2 linked regions of the Homo sapiens genome follow. The protein of the gene in region 1 purifies or fractionates together with the protein of each later gene. This does not show direct contact. Each region holds a gene or a part of one and is shown on either strand. Other genes may lie near its edges.

What was found.
Region 2: the proteins of TPD52L3 (region 1) and GABPB1 purify together in Homo sapiens (co-immunoprecipitation; 2 studies listed by BioGRID and IntAct, with this or other methods). This does not show direct contact.

What each region holds. Positions count from the first base shown.
Region 1 is NC_000009.12:6,326,933-6,331,174, reverse strand, and holds the start of TPD52L3 (tumor protein D55), read right to left. Parts: upstream 2,801-4,242; 5' UTR 2,580-2,800; coding exon 2,213-2,579; coding exon of another isoform or gene 2,157-2,212; exon of another isoform or gene 994-2,156; coding exon of another isoform or gene 962-993; exon of another isoform or gene 255-961; intron 200-254; coding exon 156-199; 3' UTR 1-155.
Region 2 is NC_000015.10:50,296,199-50,299,698, forward strand, and holds part of GABPB1 (GA-binding protein subunit beta-1 isoform beta 2), read right to left. Parts: intron 1-3,500.

The DNA of each region.
Region 1 (4,242 bases):
TTCAGAACCTGGGACAGTTCTTGATACAGAGTAGGGTCTCAGATTGGCTTTGAATAAACACGATATTTTTGTTTAAAAGCAGAAGGAACTTGTGAACAAGTTCATGTTGTTGATAGTCTCTTGGATTCCATATTTGATGTCTGAAGTATATGATGTTAATTCCTTCCTTGATTTAACGTGTATTTATTGAAGATCAATCCTAAGCCAGAAATGGGAAAACAATGATCAGCAAAAATAAATATGTACTTTACTACTTTTACGGAGTTGAGAATTTATTGGGGAAACTTACTACTGTTGTAGAAATTATTAAATAAAATATAACATCTCTCAGGTTTGGCCCATGATAATAGTCTGAGATTGTCCCTAACACAAGCCTTCCTGAAATATGTCAAAGCCTTTGCCTGTTGGACTACTTTCATTTCTTGTATGCTGCAGGCTCACCTCTTGTTCTCCAGCATACAAAGCCATTTTGGTTGATAAACACAACAAATTAAAAATCGAACATGCAAAATAGTAAAACATCTTGTTTTAATCCAAGCAAAACTTTGTCTTCAGAAATCTGTGGAGGGTTGGGATACATGAGTAACTTTACAGTTTACCAGATGCTTTTGTATTTATAGTGGTATTTGGTTTTGCTTATAGGAAAACCAAAGGAATGTTGGGGGAGCATTCAAGAGTCAACAAAACAGAATCATCCTCTTAGGCTGGAGGGATTACCATTTTAGGCAGTGAGAGATTACTGAAATGTACCCATAAGGGTCCTAGTCTCTGCCCACAGCCAATAAGATGCAAACTTCTATCTCAGGCAGTGTGTCTAGAGGAGTGAAAGAGGCTCCCAGATCTTGGCATTTTGAAAATGGAAAAGGAAAACAAACAAAAAGTATATTCGTGTGAAAATCAGATATCAGAAAATTCAAACAAGCACCGTCCAGGTTCCTACTGTCTTGAGCTCTCCAGAGGGTTATATTCTGCTTCCTTCTCCTTTAGGGTTTCCTAAAAAGAAGGGCAGACTTGGAGTTAAGAGCAAAGATGTATAGTTAGGTCCATTCAAAGGCATAACAGCCAGCATCACAGGGGACAGACGTTCTTTTTAAAATGTTCCTTGAGACAGGGGTTTATCTTTCTTGAATTTGGCTATACCTGTTTTCCTCCAGCCCCTCAGCTGGAGGTGGTAACTAACTAGGAATTGCTGCCAGAGAGGCAATTTCTTCCTTTTAAGTGAAGTGCTGCTATGGCAAAGACATGCTGCTTCAAGGGTTAAACTTTAAAACACTCATTTTGATATATAAAGAAATTATAAACAAAGCACAAGGCAAAGTTGCAATTTCAGTTTGTGTTCAAAGTAGTAATAATTTCCTAAACTGACACTGTTGTTTTGCTTAGTCCAGACCTTTGAAAACAAACGAGTTTTACAAAAGCTATATTAGTAATGTAACAATTAGTGCACTACCACTATTTTCCCCTCTTTTTCTGAGTCTCAGAGAAGATGAAGTTTTCTTGATCATCTTTTTAAAATAAAAGTTGTAGGCCAGGTGAAGCTTTCAAGGTGACTTTGAGACTGAGGGAAGGAAGGAAATGGGGAAGGGAAAACAAACAAACAAACCAAAAAAACACTACAGATTACTTCATACCTCTTTCAAGCTTAAACAGAACTCTACTTTGGCTTTCTAATAAGCTAGTTTTCCAAAAGAGAGTTTGGGCTTTGGCCTAAGACCCCTCTGGAGCCACTGACTTGCCCATTAGATACAGTCTCAGGAAAGCTAATATAATGGCACATTTCGTCTACAAACTTAAGTGAAAAATAACCAGGTACAAAACTTTGGGTTCTCTATCTTAAAAGCAGCAAATATCTGTGTTCTTTTCTCAAAACTGGATTCTGTCAATTTCCTGAATTAACCACTTTACCATTGTGGTTTGCTTGCTTGTTTTTGTTGGGCAGAGTTGCAAATGTAATAAGGGAAGGGGGTCCTTGCACTGGTTTAGTACCAGGCAAGGTTACCAAGGGGGCTCATTCTGGTTCCAGAAAGTGGAGATGGTCATCCTCACTCTCCAGAACTGGGAGTGGCTCATTCCCACTCCCCGGAATCTGGAGTGGGTCTTCCCCACACCCCAAAACTGAGAGCAGATCAACCCCACCCTCCGCAGAAGAAAGACAGTCAGGGCCAAGCTCTTTTGCCCCCTGAGACTTTGGACTTGATTGTCCCCATCAGACCTTCAAAAGATCTGAATGTGGCCGACTTCTTCACGCCTCCAAGCTTCCTGCAGATGAGAGTGCCCATGGTGGACAGAGCAGCTGATGTCTTCTGTTTCACATAGGTGTTGGAGACCTGAACATCAAGCCAGCTCTTGGACAGATTCTGTCTCAGCCCTACCAAGGCGGTGAGGCCTAACTTCCTCTTGAGTTCCCCACAGCGTCTCTCTTTGGCTGCTAGTACGTGGCGTAGGGTTACAATTTCAGCCTCCAATTTAGTGAGTTTGGTTTTGAGCTCTCTTTGCTCGGGCTCTGTCAGATCCTCCAGTTCAGAAGTCGAGTGGGATTCATATGTGCCCACAGAGGTCTCTGTCCTGGCATGTGGCATGGACTGGGAAAGAAGATCTTCGTTAAGAGAGTCCAGGTCCAATTCTTGGTAGAAAGAGTCGAATTATTGGGCTGCAGAGAAATAATCTTGGCCAGCAGAGTCGAAATCTAGGCCTGCAGGCTCAGACTCTTGGCAGGTGGAGTCAGATTTCAGGCGGGAGGGATCCATGGCCCAGCTGGTACAATGGACACCTTGACAGTTGAGTTGACGACCTGGCCTGTGAAGTAGACACGCTAGCTCGTGGTGTTCACTTCCGGGTGGTGGGGGTGGGGAGCCGGGCTGGTCAGGGTTGCGGAGGTGGGACTTCCCGCCCAAACCGCGAGGCTGTAGAATCAGTGCTCAGCTGAGGCGCAACCCACACTGGCGGCATTTTGGCATTGCGAGGACCTCCTGAGGTAGGCAGTGCAGAGATTATTGTCGAAAAGAGAGGAATTTCTCCTGACATGGTAAATGACAAGCCCTGGCCTTCAAACCAAAGCGTCAGGCAACTGTTTTCCACCACACCAGCTCCAACACTTGAAAATCATTTAAACATCATTGTGCTAGTATGAATTTTCAGTTTTGCAGTTGCATTTTCTTTATTCCGCCCTACCTCCACTCACATTTCTGGAAGCATGTCTGCCTACATTCAAGGTTACCTGTTGTGGGAGGTAGTCTGCACAGTAAAGTAAAACTAGTTAAATAGGATCTATCAGAGTGTGGATCCACTCTCCCCTGCCAACCTGCCACCCCAACCTCCCCCCAACCGTAATTCTGCCGAGAGTAAACTTATGCAATGGAAAAATCAGGACGTTAATCCAGTGAGGTCTTGTGGTCGAGCTTCACTTAGCTCATTCTATGGCTGCCTATTCTCAGAGAATATTCTTGAGCAAGTCTTAGACTCTAGTGATTTTGTTGGATATTCTTGTAATTCTTGCGAGCATGATCTTGTGGAACATAATTTGATCCTCAGCAAATTTCAGCAGTTTGCCCTACTCATGCCTATGTGGCTACAATGAAGCATCCAGCTGTGCATTCAAACCAACTTCAGCCCTCCTTTGAGTTTATGTTCTATAACCCTTTCACATAATTTAGTAGTGTTTATTATTGCCTTGTCCTGAGTGGTGTGTTTCCCTAAGTTAAAAAGTGAGAATTGTTCTTGTAAACATGAAGGCTGATGGAGGATTTGGCTATGTGTTTAAAGGCCTGAAAAGGGCAGCAAGGACTCCCTAAAAACCAATTTGTTCCAGAGGGTAGACTTTTCCTCTATTGCCTGTAGAAACACTAGTGGTTTCAGGAACACTCCCAGACTCTGAATCAGAACTCCTCTTTCAAACCTGAGACTAAAGGGTAAAGAAATCCCTGAATTATGCTACATAATATAGAACACACATTGTCTCTTCAAAGTTGAGACTCCAAATCACCAAATCTGAACTTGCACTTGATTTTACTTCTCTGTATTATTTCAACCACCAACCTTGATGCCTATTTTCTTTATAAGCTTCCTCATCCTTCAGTGTATACTATGAAATCTTTTATTAAGCCTTGATTCCTTTTGACAGAGAATGGTTTTTTTTCTCATAGCAAAACTGAGCTTTTCAGACACTTAGTTGCCAGATCCCACATCAAGACATACCCTGTCATTCAAATAGGAAAATAAGAAGTCAAATTATTTCTTTTTCAG
Region 2 (3,500 bases), on another chromosome or scaffold:
ACCAGGAAAAATGTGTATTGTACCACTTAGCTAGTAAAAGAAAAGAATATGAGCAGGAACAATGAGTGTACTGATGGAGCTTACACTATATTTTGGTCAACATCATTTAAAAAGGTCAAAAAAGTAGCAGAACACTTATTTCAACAGACTACCTATTACTAGAAAAAGCTATAGAAACAGATACATCCCAAAAGTAATAGCGACGCTCTTGCTTAAAATAAGATAAAATGAAAATTACACAAATAATTCAATATTGTGTAATTCAAATATCTCAAACCAAATTATAAACGTTCTAAAAGAGCCCAGAGATCATGTGAATAAACTGCATAGGAGAGATGGTACATTATAGAGGTCACAGACATATACCTTGGGAATCAGTCAGACTGACCAAATCCTCCTTTCTCTACTTAATAGCCATATGCCCTTTGATAAAATTATTCAACCTCCACAACCTCCAATTCAACCTGTTTCATTATATATAAAATGGAGGTCCCACTAATGTATTTTCCAGATTCTAACAAGCCCTTGAAAAGATATATATAAACATTTCGAGAATCAGGATGAGTCTGACGATAGATTTTAAAGAAACTGGACAGCCAGAAATCAGAGAAATAATCTGTGGTAGATTTAGCTTTGCCTGAGTATGTGCAAATTGAGCTTTAAGTTGTTTACTCTGGTGGTAACATACTTAAACTTTAACTTAATTCTTTTTTTTTTTTTTTTTTTTTTTGAGACAGAGTCTCCCTGTGTTGCCCAGGCTGGAGCACAGTGGCACAATCTTGGCTCACTGCAACCTCCACCTCTGAGGTTCAAGCGATTCTCCTGTCTCAGCCTCCCGAGTAGCTGGGATTACAGGCATACGCCACCACATCCGGCTAATGTTTGTATTTTTAGTAGAGATGGAGTTTCACCATGTTGGCCAGGCTTGTCTTGAACTCCTGACCCCAAATGATCCACCCACCTCGGCCTCCCAAAGTGCTGGGATTACAGGTGTGAGCCACTGAGCCCACCCATTACTTCTTTTTTTTTTTTGAGATGGAGTCTTGCTCTGTCACCCAGGCTGGGGTGCAGTGGCACAATCTCGGCTCACTGCAACCTCTGCCTCCCAGGTTCAAGCCATTCTCCTGCCTCAGCCTCCCCAGTAGCTGGGATTACAGGGGCACACCACCACACCCAGCTAATTTTTGTGTTTTTAGTAGAGACAGGGTTTCAGAAACATGTTGGCCAAGCTGGTCTTGAACTCCTGACCTCGTAACCTGCCCACCTCAGCCTCCCAAAGTACTGGTATTACAGGAGTGAGCCTGCGCTCCCGGCACTTCTTTTTAAGTAAGCTTTTAAAATATCTTCAAAAAGATTCCACTATGGGCCGGGTGCAGTGGCTCACACCTGTAACCTCAGCACTCTGAGAGGCCGAGATGGACAGATCAGAAGTTCGAGGCCAGCCTGGCCAACATGGCGAAACCCCATCTCTACTAAAAATACAAAAATTGGCTGAGAGTGGTGGCGTGTGCCTGTAATCCCAGCTACTCAGGAGGCTGAGGCAGGAGAATCGCTTGAACCCAGGAGGCGGAGGCTTCAGTGAGCCAAGATCACGTCACTGCACTCCAGCCTGGGGTGACAGAGTGAGACCCTGTCTCCAAAAAAAGATTCCACTGTGATGTCATATTGAAATGAAAAATTATTGTGCTCATAGAAGATTTTAAGTCACATGCAATAAAAACTAACTGAAATTACTAATTCTCTCAGACTAGACCAAAACATTTTCAAAGGTTAAGAGAAGTTAGAGAAATTGGTGTGGCCATTTCATGGAGTCACACATTTAAATGTCAAAATTTCCAGCTGACTTAGAAGAAAAGCCGTTTTACTTTCAGATATATGTGTTTTTGTTTTCGTTTTTGTTTTTTTGTTTTTGAGACAAGGTCTTGGTCTGTCACCCACGCTGGAGTATAGTGGCGCGATCACAGCTCACTGCTACCTCTGCTTCCAAGGCTCAAGTGATCCTCCCACCTCAGCCTCCCAAGTAGCTGTGAACACAGGCACCTGCCACCATGCCCAGCTAATTTTTTCTGTAGAGACAGGATTTTGCCACGTTGTCCAGGCTGGTTTTGAACTTCTGAACTCAAGTGATCTGCCACCCTTAGCCTCCCAAAGTACTAGAATTATAGGCATGAGCCACCACACCCGGCCAGAGGTAAGTTATTTAATTAAAGAAAAGAAATTTACAAGTTTAACCAAATAGAAACCACCAATGAAATCAGTTTTCTTTGCTATGCTTCTGCAATTACATAAGTATTAAATAGATCCAGGCATAGGTTATAAAAGCAGCATGTTAGTATGATGATGCATATAACTGCTAATGGCCAAAAGTGATTCATACAAATCTTAAGACTCCCAAATATAAAGGCTTGGATTCAAACTTAGATTATAATGCTACAGAAGCTAAAGAATGGATAAATGTTATTTTCAAAAAGAGGCTGGGCACAGTGGCTCATGCCTGTAATCCTAGCACCTTGGGAGGCCGAGGAAGGCAGATCACTGAGGTGAGGAGTTCGAGACCAGCTTGGCCAACATGGTGAAACCCCGTCCCTACTAAAAATACAAAAAATAGCTGGGTGTGGTGGTGCATGCCTGTAATCCCAGCTACTGGGGAGGCTGAGGCAGGAGAACTGCTTGAACCTGGGAGATGGAGGCTGCAGTGAGCCAAAACTGTACCACTGTACTCCAGCCTGTGTGACAAAATGAGACTCCATGTCAAAAAAAAAAAAAAAGAAAGAGAAAAGAAAAGAAAAAGAGAAAAGAAAAAGGTAGCATTCCCCCAACTCCTCCAAGTCAAGAATATTACAGTAATATCCACCTTAAAGCTTTCTGGTGAGGAATAAATGAGATTATAAGTAAAATATTTATCACAGTGCCTAGCAGAGAGAGTAAGCATTTGATGAAATGTTGTTATTATTGATCAAATTTTGAAAAAACACTAATTTAAAAAATGAATGACAAATTATTCTTTGCTTTTATAAGCACTGAACCAAATATAATGGCTTAAGCTACAGAAAAATATTTTCTTGGAATTTAAAAAATTTCCTAATTAAATTTTACCGACATAATAATTACATCAAGAAGTATTTTGGTTAAGTATAAAGGTAAATCTTGTATAAACCAAATGTTCATGAATACTGTTTGTCATCATTTAACAACAGGTAACCCTTTCATTTCTTTTTGAGACAGAGTTTTGCTCTTGTTGCCCAGGCTGGAGTGCAATGGCGTGATCTCGGCTCACCGCAACCTCCACCTCCCGGGTTCAAGCCATTCTCCTGCCTCAGCCTCCCGAGTAGCTGGGATTACAGGCATGGGCCACTACGCCTGGCTAATTTTGTATTTTTAGCAGAGACGGGATTTCTCCATATTGGTCAGGCTGGTCTCGAACTCCTGACCTCAGGTGATCCACCCGCCTCAGCCTCCCAAAGTGCTGGGCTTACAGGAGCAAGCCACCGCACCCAGCC